4 linked regions of the Homo sapiens genome follow. The protein of the gene in region 2 purifies or fractionates together with the protein of the main gene of each other region. This does not show direct contact. Each region holds a gene or a part of one and is shown on either strand. Other genes may lie near its edges.

Evidence for each region. Proteins that work in one complex are often made in the same cells at the same time.
Region 1: the proteins of KCND3 (region 2) and VPS4A purify together in Homo sapiens (affinity purification with western blotting, with the first as the bait; one study listed by BioGRID). This does not show direct contact.
Region 3: the proteins of KCND3 (region 2) and SEMA3A purify together in Homo sapiens (affinity purification with western blotting, with the first as the bait; one study listed by BioGRID). This does not show direct contact.
Region 4: the proteins of KCND3 (region 2) and CUX1 purify together in Homo sapiens (affinity purification with western blotting, with the first as the bait; one study listed by BioGRID). This does not show direct contact.

What each region holds. Positions count from the first base shown.
Region 1 is NC_000016.10:69,309,560-69,314,591, forward strand, and holds the start of VPS4A (vacuolar protein sorting-associated protein 4A), read left to right. Parts: upstream 1-1,790; 5' UTR 1,791-1,952; coding exon 1,953-1,973; intron 1,974-5,032. UniProt on the Homo sapiens protein: Involved in late steps of the endosomal multivesicular bodies (MVB) pathway. Recognizes membrane-associated ESCRT-III assemblies and catalyzes their disassembly, possibly in combination with membrane fission.
Region 2 is NC_000001.11:111,780,169-111,783,668, forward strand, and holds part of KCND3 (A-type voltage-gated potassium channel KCND3), read right to left. Parts: intron 624-3,500; coding exon 522-623; intron 147-521; coding exon 57-146; intron 1-56. UniProt on the Homo sapiens protein: Pore-forming (alpha) subunit of voltage-gated A-type potassium channels that mediates transmembrane potassium transport in excitable membranes, in brain and heart. In cardiomyocytes, may generate the transient outward potassium current I(To).
Region 3 is NC_000007.14:84,191,548-84,196,858, forward strand, and holds the start of SEMA3A (semaphorin-3A precursor), read right to left. Parts: upstream 3,243-5,311; 5' UTR 3,040-3,242; coding exon 2,928-3,039; intron 1-2,927. UniProt on the Homo sapiens protein: Involved in the development of the olfactory system and in neuronal control of puberty. Induces the collapse and paralysis of neuronal growth cones. Could serve as a ligand that guides specific growth cones by a motility-inhibiting mechanism.
Region 4 is NC_000007.14:102,201,547-102,206,067, reverse strand, and holds part of CUX1 (Homeobox protein cut-like 1), read right to left. Parts: coding exon 3,864-4,521; intron 1,678-3,863; coding exon 1,512-1,677; intron 955-1,511; coding exon 898-954; intron 1-897. UniProt on the Homo sapiens protein: May be involved in intra-Golgi retrograde transport.

The DNA.
Region 1 (5,032 bases), on a different chromosome or scaffold from region 2:
TGTGTCACACACTCTTGGCAGAGATGCCACGATGCCATGCTCTCTTCAGGGTATCATGTGGAGAGACACACGAGGGCCACGCATCCCACCACCAGGGGTGTTCCCTTCGGTCGCGTAGTCAAGCTAATGTCCTCATTGTTTTCTCCTTTGTATTTATTTATTTATTTAGAGATGGAGTTCCGCTCTTGTCGCCCAGGCTGGAGTGCAATGGCGTGGTCTTGGCTCACTGCAACCTCCGCCTCCCAGGTTCAAGCGATTCTCCTGTCTCAGCCTCCCAAGTAGCTGGGATTACAGGTGCCCACCACCATGGCCGGCGAATATTTTGTATTTTTAGTAGAGACAGGGTTTCACCATGTTGGCCAGGCTGGTCTTGAACTCCTGACCTCAAGTGATCCACCTGCCTCGGCCTCCCAAAGTACTGGGATTATAGGCGTGAGCCACCGCGCCCGGCCTCTCCTTTGTATTTAATTAGCATTTTGTGAAGAGAGATTAAGGTGTGCCAATTTTTTGGTTTTTTTTTTTTTTTTTTTTTTTTTTTTTTTTTTTTTTTTTTGGAGGCAGGGTCTTGCTTCATTTCCCAGGGTGGAGTACAATGGCCTGGTCACGGCTCACTACAGCCTCGACCTCCCAGGCTCCAGCAATTCTCCCAACTCAGCTTACGGAGTAGCTGGGACTACAGGTGTGCGCCACCATGCCCAGATACGTTTTTTATTTTTTGTAGCGATGGGGGTTCACCTGTTGCCGAGGCTGTTCTCGAATTCCTCGGCCCAAGCAATCGGCCTGCCTCGGCTTCCCAAAGTGTTGGGATTACAGGCATGAGCCCCCATACCCAGCCTCAACTTGGATGTTTTTTGCCCTCCATTTTTTTTCTCTCACAGGATAGACTTGTGGACAAATGGATCACTTGCCTCTGGTGCGTTTTTTTGTTTGTTTGTTTTGTTTTGTTTCTTAATTTAGCGACGAGGTCTTACTATGTTGCCCAAGCTGGTCTTGATCCTCGGCTCAAGCAATCCTCCTGCCTTGGCCTCCCAAAGTGCTGGAATTACAGGCGTGGGCCAGTACACCCAGCCCTAGAACTGCTTTGATCATTGTATCCCCAGAAACTAGCACACAACGCTGCACACAGTAGGTGTGCATGCCTGTAATCCCAGCTACTCGGGAGGCTGAAGCAGGAGAATCGCTTGAACCCGGGAGGCGGAGGTCGCAATGAGCCGAGATCATGCCACTGCACTCCAGCCTAGGCGACAGAGCAAGACTCCGTATCAATCAATCAGTCAATCAATCCAAGCAAAACAAAACTGGCTTTGAACAGTCAGCGGCATCCCACCAGGGATTGAGCCCCAGTGTGGGGCACACTCTGTTTACATTAGCTAGCTCATTTATTCCCCACAAAAGCCAGACAAGGCAGGTACTAATTATGATCGTGCGATATTAAACATGGAGAAACCAACGCTCTGATAAGTTCGTTTTATTGTGAGAATAAAACTGCTCAATGGGCGCTGTTATTCCAAGCGAGGTCAGGATTTCCGGATTCTACCCCGCTCCGCCCCTGGCCCCGCCCCGAGAATGTACGTCCCGCCAGGCCCCGCCCCGGCCTTGTCCCACCCACCCCGTCCCCGCCCCCTGTCCGTCTCGCCCTAGTCCCACCTCCTCGTCCCCAGTCAGTCCTGCCTCTCGAACCGCCCCCTGCCTTCGCCGAGGCAGGGAGAGGTGCCTGCAGTGCGAGCCGTGGACGCTAGGGGGCAGCCGCTCGGCTCGGGCCCGACCGCTCTGGGCTGCGCTCCTCGCTTGCCCTCGGACTCGGCTCCCGCTGCGAGCGGCCGCCCTGCCCGCGCACCGCGCTCAGCGCCCACCGCCGGGCTTCCCGCGCCGGACCCAGTACCTCGGCTCCCCGGGGCCGGACCGAGGCCGCAAGCAGCGCCGCGGGGTGTGGGGCGGACCCAGGAGATGAAATGACAACGTCAACCCTCCAGGTACTTCGTGCGGCCCGGCCCGACTTCGGAGGCCGAAGGCAGCGGGGCCTGCGGGCCGCAGAGCCGGGCGGCGGGCGGGTGGTCAGGTGGGCGCCTCCCAGCCCCGGCCTCGCGACCCCGCTCCGGCCGCCCCCTCGCCGCTTCCGCCCGTGTCTGTTTCCACGCGCTCGGAGCCGGGTGGCATCTCCACCCTCAGGCCTTCCGGCCCTGCCCGGCTGGCCCAGCCCCAGGGCCGCTTCGTGTAGCCGGCGCCCCGGTACCGCCGTGGGGATCAGCCTCACCCGAGCCGCACAGGCACCCTCAGGAAGCTCGGCCCGGGGTCCGGCTGGGCGTTCAGACAGCGATGCTCGCTCCCTCCTCTCCTGTCTCGCTCCCTCCTCTCCTGTCCCGGGTCCTGGAAGTCCCTCGACCTCACTTCGAACAAGCCCCGGCCCCTTCCCCAATCTTCGACTTCCTCTTCTCGGCCAGCGACCCTTCATTCATTCCCTAGATCCTGCAGGGTGGTGCTGGGATGGCGCCACCTGGGTGAACAACTGACCCACCCTCTAGGTGCTGTCAGTCCTGCGGGGCCAGAAGAGATCAACATGCTCAGGCCTCATTCCGGGGTTTGAATCTCAGCTCTGCCACTCACCAGCAAGTGACCTTGGGCTAGTTTTTTTTTTTCATCTTCGGGTCTCGAGTTTCCTGGTCTGTAAAATGGGGTAATGCCCTCTAGGTTGTTGTGATGATAGCTTTAAATTGAATAATTACGGTAAAGCATTCTTGTATGTCTGGCACATAGTAGGTGTCCATTAAGTGACAGCCAACAAAGTGCCTGGGAGAGTTAGGCAAGACTTCATGGAAGAAGGGACATCAGAGTTCCAGTAGCATTCAGAGACCTGGAGGTGGAGGAGGGCAGAAGTAGGAGCAGACATGGAATGAGTTGGGGTACCAGGTTAGGAATTAAGAGTCCATAGCCAGATCCCACCGTACCACCAGCAGAAGCCGCAGATCCCGTCTGCCCAGGCAGGTTTTTTATGGCCCGTGAACCGAGAATGTTTTTCAGTTTCAAACACAGGTGTATTTATTTATTTTTAAATTTTATTTATTTATTTTTTTGAGATGGAGTCTCACTCTGTCACCCAGACTGGAGTGCAGTGGTGTGATCTTGGCTCACTGCAGCCTCTGCCTCTCAGGTTCAAGCGATTCTCCTGCCTCAGCCTCCTGAGTAGCTGGGATTACGGGCACCCGCAACCACGCCCGGCTAATTTTTGTATTTTTAGTAGAGACCGGGTTTCACCGTGTTGGCCAGGCTGGTCTCGAACTCCCGACCTCAGATGATCTGCCCACTTCGGCCTCCCAGAGTGCTGGGATTACAGGTGTGAGCCACGGGTCTGGCCTAAACACAGCTTTATTAAGGTATAACTTGCGTGCTTACCATATAACTCACCCGTTATATATTTTTGTTTTTATTAATTTTTTTTTTTGAGACAGTCTCATTCTGTCACCCAGGCTGGAGTGCAGTGGCACAATCTCAACTCATTGCGGCCTCCGCCTCCTGGGTTCAAGTGATTCTCCTGCCTCAGCCTCCCAAGTAGCTGGGATTACAGGCACCTCCCATCACACCCAGCTAATATTTTTTTGTATTTTTAGTAGAGACGGGGTTTCACCATGTTGGCCAGGCTGGTTTCGAACTCCTGACTTCAAGTGTGATCTGCCCACCTCGGCCGCCCAAAGTGCTGGGATTACAGATGTGAGCCACTGTGCCCAGCGCAACTCACCCATTTAAAGTGTATAATTCAGTGCTTTTAGTATATTCATGGTTGTGTGACCATCACCATAATCACTTTTTAGAATATTTTCATCACCTCCAAAAGAAACCCCTCACCCACAACCCCTCTCTCTCCCAGCCCTGGGCAACCACTGCTAATCTACTTTTTTTCTCTGTGGGTTTGCCTACAGAGAAACCCACTTTATATAAACAGAGTCATACAATAGGTGGTCCTTTGTGGCTAGCTTCTTTCATTATGACTTAACATAATGTCATAGGTTTTTACATTTTTTAAATGGCTTGAAAAACAGTATTTCATGACACATGAAAATCCTATGAAATTCACATTTCAGGGTCTATAAATAAAGTTTTATTGGAACACATCCCTGTTCGTTTATTGATATACTGTCTACAGCTGCTTTTGTGCCATCAAGGTAGAGTTGAGTCGTTGCTACAGAGATTATCTGGCTGGCAAATCCTAAATTATTTACCATCTGGTCCTTTACAGTAAGCATTTGCCAGCCCCCATTAGCACTCTTTTCTTTCATCCTCATCTTTTGCCATACGTGTTACTAGAGATGCGGCGGGGCTGGCAGTTTCTCACCTTACCCTCCTGTTCTGTAAAACTGTTTCTCTCCATTGAAACTTGGACCCCCTGTGTGTGAAAAACTGTATGTGGCTGCCAGAAAAGTCCAGTGCACTCTTTTTTTTTTTTTTTTTTTTGAGATGGACTCTTGCTCTGGTGTGATCTCGGTTCTCTGCAGCCTCCACCTCCTGGGTTCAAGCAATTCTCCTGCCTCAGCCTCCCAAGTAGCCGTAACTACAGGCACGCGTCACCACACCCGGCTAACTTTTTGTATTTTTAGTAGAGATGGTGCTTCACTGTGTTAGCCAGGATGGTCTCAATCTCCTGACCTCCGGTGATCCGCCCGCCTCCGCGTCCCAAAGTGCTGGGATTACAGGCATGAGCCACCGTGCCCAGCCCCAGCACACTCTTAGGTGTATTACTAGAATTTCCAAAAGGAGGGAGGGGATGGGTCAGTGCTGCTCCTTATGGGACAAAGAATACCTTCAGTATTGTTCTAAGGATAGACCCAAGCATGAAGCTACAGAGAGTGAAAAAGTCCAAGGTACTGGGGGTGTGTGTTCTGGAGACGAGAAGCCACCAGGGAGAGGAGCGCTGCCTTCCTGTCTCATCTGAAGGAACATCATGCAGAAGAGGGCAGACAAGGGCAGCCTGTGCCTAAGCTCATTTCCAAGAAGGTTTGGGGCTCCCAGCCATTCATTGTAGGTAGTAGAGGGAGCAGAG
Region 2 (3,500 bases):
TTAGAAAAGGGTCAGGGTCAGCGATGAAAAGGAGGTGGCAAAGGGCTGGGACTCACAGTGGTTTTTTCCAGGCAGTGCAGCAGGTGATGATGCTGGCTCTCGATGAGTGAGGTGGTCTTGCCCATGTGCTCCTCTTCTGGGGTGCCCTAGTAAAAAAAGAAGAGAGATTGAGTAAAAAGCTGGTGGCTCTTCCCCTCTCCAGCTCCTTCATTTCTCCACTAAAGGTCAAAGGGCAATAGAATAATCAAATTTTTTTTTATTTGACCAAATTTCAGGGTCAGCATTGAATATGCTAACCTTTGGGCTCAGGGGCCCTTGGTCTAAACCTGGTTTAGAGGTAGTGGTGATAATCCTATGGAAGTGGTGTGTGAATGGGGGGCTGCTACCTGGGGAAAGTTTGGAAACGTGTCCTCCTTGGGGTTCATACTGGGGCTCTGGTGAGAGTGCTGGTGTCCCGGGAAAGAGAAAACAAGCCCATCTACCCCTTTATGTTCCCTAGCCCAGGTCCTCTAGGCACCTACCGTCAGCTCCAGCGCCTCGTTGAGGAGCCCGTTGCGCTTGCTGTGCAGGTATGCATTCGAACTGCCTGTTTTGGCCACACGGATCCTGGCAAGGCGGGCCTTCTGTGATTGGCAGAGATAATAAAAGAATGAGGCAGACCATGATACAAAAAGACAGCAAGGCTGGTGAAGCTGTGAGGCTGGCTTCCCAGGTGACACCTGATGAAGGGGATGAGGCTGTTTCTCTCCAACCTCATGCATCTCCAGTTGTGTACCCACTTTGTATAGCTTGGTTGGGTCAGAATTCCCAGGAGTCTCCACTCATCTCTCCAGCCCGGGTATAATCCTGGCAGGAGAAATATCACTCATCCAAGCTCTCTTCTCCCAAAGGTTTCATGACCTTTATCTACTCAGTATTGCAAAATGCCATGTGCTATTCAGTTGTGCTCCTCAGTTTTCTTATCTCTAACTAAATTGCAAACTCCTTAGAGGAGTGTATGTGATAGCTGCCCTGATTCTCCTCTAGGGTCCAGTACAATTTTCTGCATATAGTAGGTCCCCAAGTATTAGTTAATTATGAGAAAAGCAAGGAGTGGGCCTATGTGCTCTTCAATGCTTCTTAACTCCTCTGCAATTTTTTTCTTTGCACGTATTACTAAGGAAATATATGTTTTATATATTTTTCTTGATACTTTCTCTTTCTCTTCCACTAAAATGTAAATTCCTTGAGGGCAGGAGTTTTTGCCTTGTTTACTGATGTACCCCCAGTAAACAGTAGGTTCTCGATTTTTAAAGTTAATAAACACATTTACAATTGTATATCTGTCTTTGGGAGTAGATTCATGCATGTATATGGTTTTTTTATTTTTTTGAGACGGAGTCTCGCTGTCACCCAGGCTGGTGTGCAGTAGCGTGATCTCGGCTCACTGCAACCTCTGCCTCCTGGGTTCAAGCAATTCTCCTGCCTCAGCCTCCTGAGTAGCTGGGATTACAGGCACCCACCAACACACTCAGCTAATTTTGTATTTTTAGTAGAGATGGGGTTTCACCATGTATCACCATGTTGATACCATGCAGGAGGGCTGCATGGTATCAAGCTCATCTCTCCTGCTTGCACAGGGAGAAGCTGAACACATTACATATGCTGGCTGCCCTTCTCCTTCCTAATGACTGTAATCATTGTCACTATGACAGTAGCACAGCCAAAGAGAGAGGACTAAGGAATGAGACTGAGAGAGGGAGAAGGGACTGGGTAGAGGTTTCTTGCTAGTTTAAAAAAATGCAGCTTGAGGTTTGGGCTCTGTAAATCTATTTACAGCCCCAGGTGCTTGCTACTGGAAGCAGAACAGCCCACAAGGATAGCAGACCCATCCTGGAGTAGAAGGTCCCTCCTCCTGGCTCTGAGCAAGTCCACATGTGACTTCAGCATGGACCCTAAGCAGGAAAAGAGTCCTAGGGAAATTGTGGCAATTTCCACTTCTTGTCACCCTCTCCCCAAGTGTCCTGCTGGGCTGGTTCATCTGCTAAAAGGAGGCCACAGTCTCAGGGGTTCAGGTGGACAACAGAAGCACAAAGGATGTATATCTCTTGCTTCCTGGGAAGTATCTCCTTGCAGAAACAATTCAACTCCCTTCCCAGGCTTCTAAATGTGGGGAAGGGGCCAGGACTTGAGCCTGAAAGATCTTCCTTTAAGTCTGAGGAAGACTGCTCCTCTTGATGAAGGAGAGAATAAAAAGGGGGACCTGGGAGAGAAAGGATGATGGCAAATCAGCCCTATCATTCCTCCTCTCTACAAGCAGAGAACATTGACTAGGGGGCCAGGACAGTTTTACTCCATGGGAATCCTGCTCCAGCCCTCCCCTTGGCTAGATATTTACATTCAAGCAAGTTCCTCATCATTTGAGGATGTGGCTGCAATTGCTTTAGGTGAGTGCTGGGTGTTGAGAGTTTCATATGGAAATCCAATTGTGTCAAGCTTATTATAGTCTTATATAATTTGATTGCACCACTTGGAGCCAGACCGTTCTTGTATCTGGGGTCCGTCTTCATTAGTTTCTAGAGATGAAAGATTCTCCTGTTCTTCTTTGTGGCACTTCTTTTAATCATATCTTACCCTGGGCTCTATTAAAGCAACAGATTGTCATATCAAATGTACTAGATCATTTAATCTCTTCCCACACAGGACAAAGAGGTTTGCAATGGATTTACATAACCATACCCAGAATATGAAATTTGGTGGGGCTCTATGGCTTGGTTTTGAGCTCTTGGGGGCTGGGGCTTGTGGCTTATACCTATTTTTATCTCTAACATCCAACACAGGGTTTCACACTGCACAGGTGCTCAAGCAAAGTTTATGATGGCCGAGGAAGGAAGAAGATCCTATGTGAGTTGGCTGGAAGGCCATGCTTATACTGCCACTGTAATGGGCTCAATCCTTGAGTGGATTGGTCAACTTCACCCTCTTCCATGGCCTTAAGAACAATGTGAGAGTTAAAAGAGAGCTTGGAGATCATCCAGACCAATTCAAAGACAAAAAAAAAAAAAAAAAAAAAGGAGGATGTGAGGGAAGTGACTTATCCAGGGAAAGGCAGTGGACGATCAAGACTTCAGCTCAGGACCTCCAACTTTCAGACCAAATGATGCTTCCAGAACATTCTCCTCCTCCTTCCCTGAATTTCCACCATCAGACAAGTTTCAAAATTTGAGCAAAGCCCAGGAGATTGCATTTTCAACAAATGTGGAGACTCCAGGGTTGGAGGAGAGGGGATCTGGAAGGAGAATGCTGCTACCCTAGGTACAGTTGCAGGTACCATCTATGTTCAAGCCAATACTTCTATCAATCCTTGGGAGGCCTCTCACAATTAAGCACTTTCTTCCTGTCTGGCTGATGGGTGCCTTTTAACCATGAGTATTTCTATCTTTTGCTGTTGGAGAGGCAGAAGGAAGAGAAAGAGAAAGAAATGGAAAGGCCAAAACATGGGAAATTGCATTCTGGGACAT
Region 3 (5,311 bases), on a different chromosome or scaffold from region 2:
CAAATGGAAGATTATATGATTTTCCTGTATTTCATGAGAAAAGTGAAATTTGACTAGTTTTGTAGAAGAAATAAACATTTATGCATGGACCACTTTTTAAAAGAAGGATTTTACCATTTAGCTATATTACATATATTTAAAGAAGACAAAAGTATTTCTGAGTAAATGTTTCTTAAGGATAATTTCTATGTAACTGCTGAGATTTACAGAGTTCTCACATTTTCTTCCCCCATAAGGATTCTAAATCAAATTGGTTCAGAGGAAAAGCCAGCATACCCCATTTTTCTAATATTATCACTTCTCCAGATGGTCCTGAACACATCTATTCAATTCCTTTTTCCTAGAAAGTAAAGAGGTATCTTATTAGATATGTACACCCGCTACAAAGGCCACTTTCCTGTTTTTACTTCTTTTTAACATGTCAAGTCTCTTTCATCTCCTACCAGGCAAAAATGATAAGTAGAAAGTAAGCACAGTGATTGCCAGAAACTTCATCTTGGCAACCTGAGCAATGAGAGAGTTAATGGTGGATCTTTGAAAACAAGTGACCATGGGAAATTAAGGTTGGCAGGGATTTAACTCTTCATGAATCATGCTGGAATATTTTTAAGGGCAATGCAGTGGATGTTTTAACTGTGTTTGACATCTAATTAAGGAGAAACAAGAAGTAGCTTTAAAAAAATCTCTATTGTACTTTAGAAACAAAGTACTGGCAATTGGCTACCACATACTTGCTTTGGCCAAACAAACGTACATGTAGAGACAAAAAGGTAATGACAGATTAATAAAATAACAGAAAAAAATTTCCTCAGGCCATTCCTTTTATTCTTCTTCCTGTTGTTCATTTCACAGTTTATTTTACCAAATTATTAAGCTCTAGGTGTATCAATGGGATTGTTATGTAGCTGTAAAGCAGTTTTTTACTTAAAGGAAAGCAGAATAATTCTAATGGATGCCATCACTAAAACAAGGCTTATAAAGACAATATCAAATATATACACCTTGCTAATATATACTGCTTGCTTCATCAGATAGGTTTAAGGCATATGTGTACAACAAAGGATATTCAAATTAAATGTAATATTTTTAATGTACAGAAAGAACAAGTGCCTCCTCTATCATGGAGAGTAACCTATTATCATGGAAATAAAATTCTTGCAAAATAAAAAAGTTTAATTCCCTATTTTTATTTTATTTTAAAATGAATTTAGCACTTAGATATATTCAAGCCTAGCAGATTTTTAAAATATATATCATGATTTTAAACTTGTTAAACTAAAAGTATTACAAATAGCCAGTCACATCTTTGAGAACTAAAGTTGCATGTAAAACTTATAGGGAACATAAACTTGGATAAAGTGGACCATCAACTTAGACTTATTTGATGTCACCTTGTCAAGGAGTGAAAACAGAAAGCAAAACTGATAAAAACACAGACACCATAATATCATATACTATGGAAATAATTTAAAGACAGTTACTAAATTAATTAAATAACGCTACATGATTTTTTAAAACTTACATAAGTACAATTGCACTTCTGTTTGTTGATGTTTAAGTCTCTATTCCCAACTTGATACTCAGGAAAACATTACACCAAAAAGTAAATAGATATTCTAATTCAATGCATTTCATTTAACGAGCACTAAGTCCAAAGAAACACATTACTAGGTGTTTAATTTTCTAATTCAAAGTGTGAAAATTACATCTCTCTTCTGATTTGAGATCCTCATTCACACTAGGGCATTCAGAAAAAGATGTTCCCCATCATATGAGAATTAAAGAATATGTTTTGTGGCATAAGAGCAAGGTACAGTAGACAGACATCTCTACAAATACCTTCAATAATTTTTATTTTAACTTATAGGCTAAAAAATAAGCTTAATTAGAGCTTCTCACTGCTCCACCCCCAATTTTAGAAATCTGAGAATCATAAGAAATCAACACCTTAGGGAGTAAAACTACTTGAGTTAAAACAGTTTAATCTTCAACTCCATTTTAATAATACCTGAGTTATAGAAAGATTTACTGCCACTAAATGTATGTATATCATTTTGGGCTCTACTTTAGCATTACTTTACACATCATCTATCTATAAGACCTATCTAAGCAAATGTGGAACAAACATAAAAAATCCTCAATAAAAATAAGCACATACATTAAATTGTAACCAAATAAAGCACTAGTGATAAAGCTCTTTTTTCTCTCTTTAATTTATACTTTTCAAAAGAGAAGTTTACACAACTACCTATGCAAGCAGACAGTAATGTGTCTGCAGTTCTCACTGAAGTACATATAGAATTAAATAACATAATATTTCAAAGACTTTAGCTTTACACAATTAGCCAAATACAGTCTTTTGTACAATCATAAGGCACTGTGGAAAAACTAGTCTGTTCCATCCAGTTTATGTTCTCTTGGCAAACCATGATCTACTGCTTATGTTAAGCATCTGATTGTCAGATTTGAACAAACTGAATATTCATGATGACGATTAACCATTTCATGTCTAAAACTAAGAAAATGCAATTCATCATAGTAATTATAGGTAAGGCATGCACATCTACAAAGAGACCATTTTTGCATTTCTATTTTTAAGAAAATATTTTAATAGAATTAAAGTCGGAAAAATTAACAGGCATAAGATAGGATAATAAGATATACAGATCAGCGTGTACCAGGCATACAGCTCTTTTCAGCAAATGTGATTAAATGTTCTTTGTTTGCATTTAAGTTGTCATATATCAAACAGAAGACATGCTTTTTACAAAAAGCGTTTAAAGCATCTCAGAAAGATACACATAATCACGTCGGTTTACCAGGTTAAACTAAAGGTTTGATGATTTGGGGTTGGGAGGGAGTTCAAGGAATTAAGGGGGGGGGCGGTTATTACAAAGCTAACCAAATAAAAGAAAAATAAGATTTACCTTTGTAGGATAATTTCAGCCTTGGCACATTGTTCTTCCCATTCTGATAGTTTGCTCTTGCTGTAAGTAATACTCCCCAGAAAAGACAGACAATCCTAGTTAACCAGCCCATGCTGCAGACGCTGTAGGTCCCTTTGCTGCTTTAGTCTTCCTTCCTGTATTGTGCGGCCAGAGAAGTTCAAACAATCTGGAAACTGGAGGTAACAGGTGATTTAGGTCAGTTTCATTCATAAATGCAGACAATCAAGACCTCATGGCAACACTAACACCTCTTCTTCTGTAACAGTCACTGAAGCACAGAAACTTCAAACCCTCCAAAAAGAAAAAAAAAAAAAAAAATTCCGAGCCAGGCACCGGATAATGAGGCACAACTGTTGTGTGGAAAGAAAAAAAAAAAAAATTAACAAGGTCTGCTGCAGTGGTGCTTAAGAAGCAGTTCCTTTTATCTAAGCTCCTCTGATAGCCGGTGGCAGTCTCTAATCCTGCTCCCTGCTTCATTCGGCTCCGGGGAAGCAGAATGAAAGGGAAACAGAGAGAGAGAGAGAGAGAAAGAGAGAGAGAGAGAGAGAGAGAGAGAGAAACCGTGAGCAGCGCGGACTTTTCCTGTACGCATGTAGAGGGAGATGACACAAGATCCCACAGACAGGTTTCCCCAACACTCACTAGACTGGCTGACAATGGGAGAACAGGCGAGCTCAACCTACTCCCCTTCCCTCCTGTCACACAACACATGCAAAAAACATCTCGTAGAGATTAGAGCCGGGAGCAGAACCCTCAGGCGTGCCTGTGAAAGGCATGTAGCTATAAATTTACTTCCCAAGGCAAGCGTTGTTTTATAGCCATTTTTGGGTGCAATTTTGATTTTAAAAATCTGAATTCTGCTACCTACAAAATTTACAATTCATGCTCATTATACAATCCTGCTGAACTTGTGCATTGTATGTGTGCGTGTGTGTGTGTGTGTGTGTGTGTGTGTCTATATATCCTCATCAATACAACTTTAACCACTGAAGGTTTTAAAGCCTTGTTAGAGATCATTCCCTCCTCCCAACAAACCCCCTGGGCTCAACCACCCCCTTCCTCTGTCCCACTGCAATTTCAGGGAAGAAATTCCTACTAAAGCCCATTCCAACAATCAGTTCAAGACAAATATAGGTCCTTTGAGAATTATAAATTACAACGGGGGATTCTCAAAAGGATACTCAGAATTTAAAAACGTCTATGGTTTTCCAGCTTCTGGAATGCTCTGGCTAACATTTTCAATGCATCACATCTCATTAATTAAAGACACTTCCCTAGTTTTGGTTTAAAGGGCAGCGGAAGATGACAAAGTTCACAAAAGTCCCTGCTGAGTGTCAAGGAGTAACATGAAAAGAATATCTCTGTGTCTTCATGAGCTGCTGAAGGGTTACTAAATTTTCTGTGGGACGTATAGGCATGTATTCAGGCAGTCATATGAACACCATTAGTTCCTTCTGAAACAAGTAGTTGGCTGTGGCCTCTCAATTTTCTCTCTTATTTTTCATTCAGTTTTCCTCAAAGCTGATATTTTTACAAGAATCTTTAGGGGATGTATAAAAAAGTTAACAGGACAGAACTTTCTCTCCTTTATTCCCCAAATGATTCTGCCCTACCCCCTCCTACCACCACTCCCCACCCCCCACCTCCAGAACAGCACTTGGAATCCAGAGACTCAACTTCAATAGTAGGGAAACTTCTTGGCTGAAGGGAGAGAGTGAGTCTCACAATTAAAAACATAAACACCTACTGAAAGTGGCTTAGTATTCTTAAGAAAATGATCTAAGCATTGTCACTACAGCTTTCATTACTTAATGTCCACAGACCAATAGAGAAAGCACAGCGCTCGCTCGCTCTGCTTTCTCTCTCTCTCTCTCTCTCTCTCTCTCTGTCTCTCCCTCTCTGCCGTTGGATGTGTGGCTTGTGTGAATGTAGGTGGAGAAGGAGGAAGAGGAGGATTTAAAGAGGGGGAGAATGGGGAAAAGGGAGTAGGAATTCTCTCTCTACTTCACTAGATTGACTCATCAAACAGATCTTATTGTATTTGTCAGTTTCCTCAAGCCTATTGATCAGCCAGTATTGTTAAGAAAATAAAATCCAAAAATAATGTTGATTTTACTGATTCCCACACTTGTTATACTAGGCACTTTCACGCTCTAGGCAATGGATTAAGGCTACAAATGACAAGAGGCTTGTCTGTCTTCCATGGATTACTCTCTATAGACATTCATTCTGCAGAGGAATTCATGTCGCTTTGGGATTATTTCAAGGATTGGACTAATGAATTATCCTATTGAAATCTCACATATAATTAGTTTAAATGCTTTAAGTAGTTTTACCATTTTCATTAGTATATATTTTATATG
Region 4 (4,521 bases), on a different chromosome or scaffold from region 2:
GTGCTCCTGTTAGCTTTGTTTGTGTTTTCAATGAATCAATGGGATATGGAGACGAATCAACATGTTTAGAAAAATACAGAAAGGGAAAAAGAGGACCAGCTCACAGTGCTGGCTGTTCCTAAAAGCTGGCTGTGAAAAGCTCAGCTCCAAGTGTGGGATTGGCGCACGAGAAGGGAGGCGGGGGGGCGCAGACGAGAGCCTGGGAGCCGTGGCCATGGGTCAGCCTCGGTGGGCTGTGTCCAGGCACCATGTGGCAAAGAGAACAAGTGTGGTTGGAGACCTCGAGGCTGTGAAATGCAGACAGGAAGGAGCCCGAGTTTCTCAGCCTGCAGCCACCACTCTCCGCCACCACCTGCTCCCAGGCTCAGATCTCAGTCCCCAGCTCTCCATTCGTTCACACCTGAGCTGTCTTCAGGGGCTTCCTGGCCATTTCCTTTCTGCTACCCTACCTTTCCCACTGCTCAAGCTCAAAGCTCCCCATTTTCTTGCTCAGAGGCTGCCTGGATGTCTTCCGGTTAGATAAGAAGTCCCCCGACATGACCCCACCAGGAGAGGGACGTGTGCCCGTGCTTTATCCCTTCCTATCAGACGGTAAGCCCCCTGAGTGGGGAATCTGTCTCCGACTTAGACCCCAGCCCTGAACACAAGGCTCTGGGCCGACAAAGGATGACAGTGGGCGTGCAAATCTTGGCAGAGTCCCTCCATGCACTGTCAGCTCGCTCTCCATTAGAAACTGACACAGAGAGGGACCCCGTTTGCAGATAGGATGCCATATTTCAGCTCCCCAAATCCAGAATGTGCGGTCCCTCGGAGTCTCGCCGGGACAGACCACAGCACGGGACAACAGAAAAGGCAGTGAGACATTTCATGCAAAAGCAACAGAAACTGGCTGCTTACCTGAGCTCACACAGCCCTGCTGCAGCGGGTCCTGGAGCGATGTCACGGAGTGGAGGACTAAAGTAGAAAAAGGTTATAATTAAAGGAAGGAACGCGGCCCAGGGCTTAAAGCTTCCTAACTGAATGTGGCAAGGCCCGGGGAGGCTTCCCATTCCTCCTGGGGAGGGGCGGGCATGGGGACCCACGGGCCGGGGAGGCGCTGCTGTTGCAAGGCCAGGCCCCCGGGCCGGGAGCAGGTGAAAGGTTTCGCCTGTGACATCTTCCACTTTTGTACCTTTGGCTGACTTTCTTTCCTGACTCCCTGATTCAGCTACTTGACTTTTACCTGTATTTATGTATAAACAGCATTTTTTAAATTGGTAACTCATTTTCTGCTGCTTATAAAATTAGACAGGCATGATCTCTCCTAAACACTGAAGTCAGTCCCACGGCAACAGGTTGTGGAGGAAGGGGACGGTTCTGTCCCCCAGCACCAGCCCACGGTGGGGAGTGTGGTTGGCCACCTCCTGGGGCGGAGTTCCCTCCTCCCTCTCTGCATAGCCCAGGTGGGGCTGCTGTGACCAGGTCCTTGCTATGGGGGGGCAGCCCCTCTCCTGTGGCAGGACCCCCATTACCTGGCCCTTGCTGCTGGCCCTGGACGGGTAGAACACCCTGGCCTAGCTCGCCGTTCAGCCAGAGCTGCATCCGGATGAAGGGTTCTCGGCCTTTCTGCGTCAGCTTGCTCCATGGCTTCGGTCGGGACAGCATGTCGCTGACGCTGCCCTGGGACAGGCCCAGCACCTGGAGTGGCACCGAACACACAGGCCATCAGTGCCTGGCTATTAGCATGACACCACAGATGCTGCTGCAATGCACACCCACCACGCAGAGGGCGCGTCTAGGGCTGACTTCTGAGCACAGAACCACGGCCTGGTGGCGGTGACAGCTTGTGGGCAGGGAATATGCATTTAAAGATCAACGGTGGCTGAGACCCCGGCACAGGGGGACTTTCGGGTGAGCCATGGTTACAGCCACAGCTCTCAGCTCCCAGGGAGGGAAGAGGGTCTCATCCCAGGGTCTTGATCCTGCCAAGATGGCAGGGCTGTCACCCTGACACCCCGCGGAGGAGGTGTGTACAAGCACCTTGCTCTTCACTTGGTGGCACCGGGAAAGGCTAAGGTTCCAGGGACAAGATCCCTCCAGAGGTGGGGCAGTGGGTGCCGGTGGGACTGGCGAAGCTGGTGTCCTCTGCAAACGCTGAGCCAGGCCAGCATTTAGAAAGGTCTGCTTGTTCTGACCACATCCTGATCAAAGGTGGGGGCCCAGAGGTGAGCTGGTGGGACCTGGGGAGCCGGCCTGGGAGTGACATTCCGCCGCAGATGATTGCCGAGTTGCGTGTACACACCCGAGTTTTCTGACGCTCCCATATGGCCATACATATGTATAGGCACAAACACCCCCCACAGGACACAGATGCCGCCCTGGGATATTTAGGGGCTGCATCCGATCACTCTTTTGAAAAGTTCTCAAGTTCCAGAATAAAACTGCACTCACGGGCCAAACAAGTTCAATGTTATTAAGTCTCTGCTAAATTTAAGGCATGAGCACGAATGTCTATTTCAATGTTCTCAAATGGTATTTTTACAACACTGAACTAGAAATCTCAAGGGACTTGAAATACTCATCCTCATTTCTAGTCGCCCCCCTTCACCTTTTGCAAAATCAGGGCAAAGTTCGCCATCGGACACCACCGGGATTCACAGCACAGCATACGGCAAACACTGAGTGGAAGGCGGGGTGGGGAGTGCGGGGACGGCGCCATGCAGGGACCCTGGCTTGGCAGGGGAGGGGGTGGGATTTGTCCCCTGCTGATCCAGCCACGTGCTCCCTCAGGAAGGTGCCTTTTAGGGGAGAGGGGTGCTTCTCCTTCTATTCAGCACTCCGTTATTTAATCTAAAATGGTAGGGGGTTGGGAGGCCAAGGCAGGCAGATCACTTGAGGTCAGGAGACCAGCCTGGCCAACATGGTGAAACCCTGACTCGACTAAAAATAGAAAAATTAGCTGGGTGTGGTGGTGGGCACTCGTAATCCCAGCTACTCAGGAGGCTGAAGCAGGAGAATCGCTTGAACCCAGGAGGCAGAGGTTGCAGTGAGCCGAGATAGCGTCACTGCACTCTAGCATGGGCGACAGAGTGAGACGCCATCTCAAAAAATAAATAAATAAAATGATACTAGGACATGATGTTTATTTTAGATTTGGCAGGCACGGTTAACCCTCATTCTCCTGAATCTCAGTGACCAGGAAAGTGCCAAGAACAGAAAGGCCTAGAAGCTCGTCCATGCACGATTACACTTTCCTGAGCCAGGGAAGGATGATAGGGAAACACGGGCCACCCTGCTTGGGCCATCCCCAAGCTGTGTGTCCCCGGGCAGGTTGCTTGACCTCTCTGACTGAACAATATCCAAGAGTTACACAGAAAGGAACAATAATGCTCTCTGCAGCTTTTTCTAGTAAGTCCCTTTTGGCTCTCTGCGTACTGGTGGTCCCTCTGTGTGATCAGATGGGATTTTTTTTGGCCAAGGAAGCCTGCAGGGGTGCCTCTCAGCTCCCCTTGGCAGCAAAAGCTGGATGTGGACTCGGCTGCCGGTCAGCTTGGGGCAAGTAGTTAACGTCCCCAAGCCTTGGTGTCCTTCCCTGTCAATTGGGGATTTTACCATCCACTTCCCAGCGCCAAGTGAGGGGTCGAAAGGGCAGCATGCAGGTGAAAGGCTGAGCCTAGAACCTGGCTGCAGTCGGGGCTCGGCAAATGGGATCGGGGCTGCAATGTTCACCAGCCGCACCTTGGAAGTCTGGGAGCAGAGGATGCCTTACGCTCTGCTCTTGGGTGAATTGAAATGGGTGAGGGTCACAGGCTGCGGGATAGATACTTGGTCCTCAGCAAGGAGAAGAGATGGGAGAACCAAAGCCCCCAGAGCAGATCCCTTACCTTCTCCCCGAAGATTCTCTGGCAGATGCCGTTCTTGGCCAGCTTTTCCTTAACCTGCCGGGTGAGCTCGATGGTGTCCACCTCCTGGTACATGTAGACCTCGTACTGCTCGGGGGTCAGCGGGGGGACCGAGGGCTTGGTGGGCTTGGACATGGGCACGATCGGGGAGGATGGCAGGGGGCTGTTCTGTGGTGTCTCGCTGCGGCTGGCCCCGGTCAGACTCAGCTCTGAGCTCTGGGAGTATGGGGACTCAGCGCTGGGCCACTCCTTCCAGTACTCTGACGACGAGGGTCCCTGGAGCTGACTGCGCTCGGCCCGAGGCTGGCTGCCACCTCCGCTGCCACCGCTGCCCTTCTCTTTCCCGCCGCCCGTTTCTTCGGCCTTGGCCTCCTCGGAGGAGGCGGCATTTCTTCTCTCCGGCTGCACCGCGCTCCACCAGTGGTCCTTCCAGGCACCGCTGCGGCCCACCTCATTTTTCACCTGTCTCAGGACCCCTTGTGCACAATCGGCTGCTCCCTGGGGGTCCAGCCCGGGGGCGTCCTGGGCCTCCTTTTTGAGGGCCGGGGGGTTCGGCAGAGCAGAGGCACCGGCCTCAGGAGCTGCGGAGGGCTTCTTCAGGGAGATGGCGAGAGGTGGGTAGCTGGACACGGTGGGCATG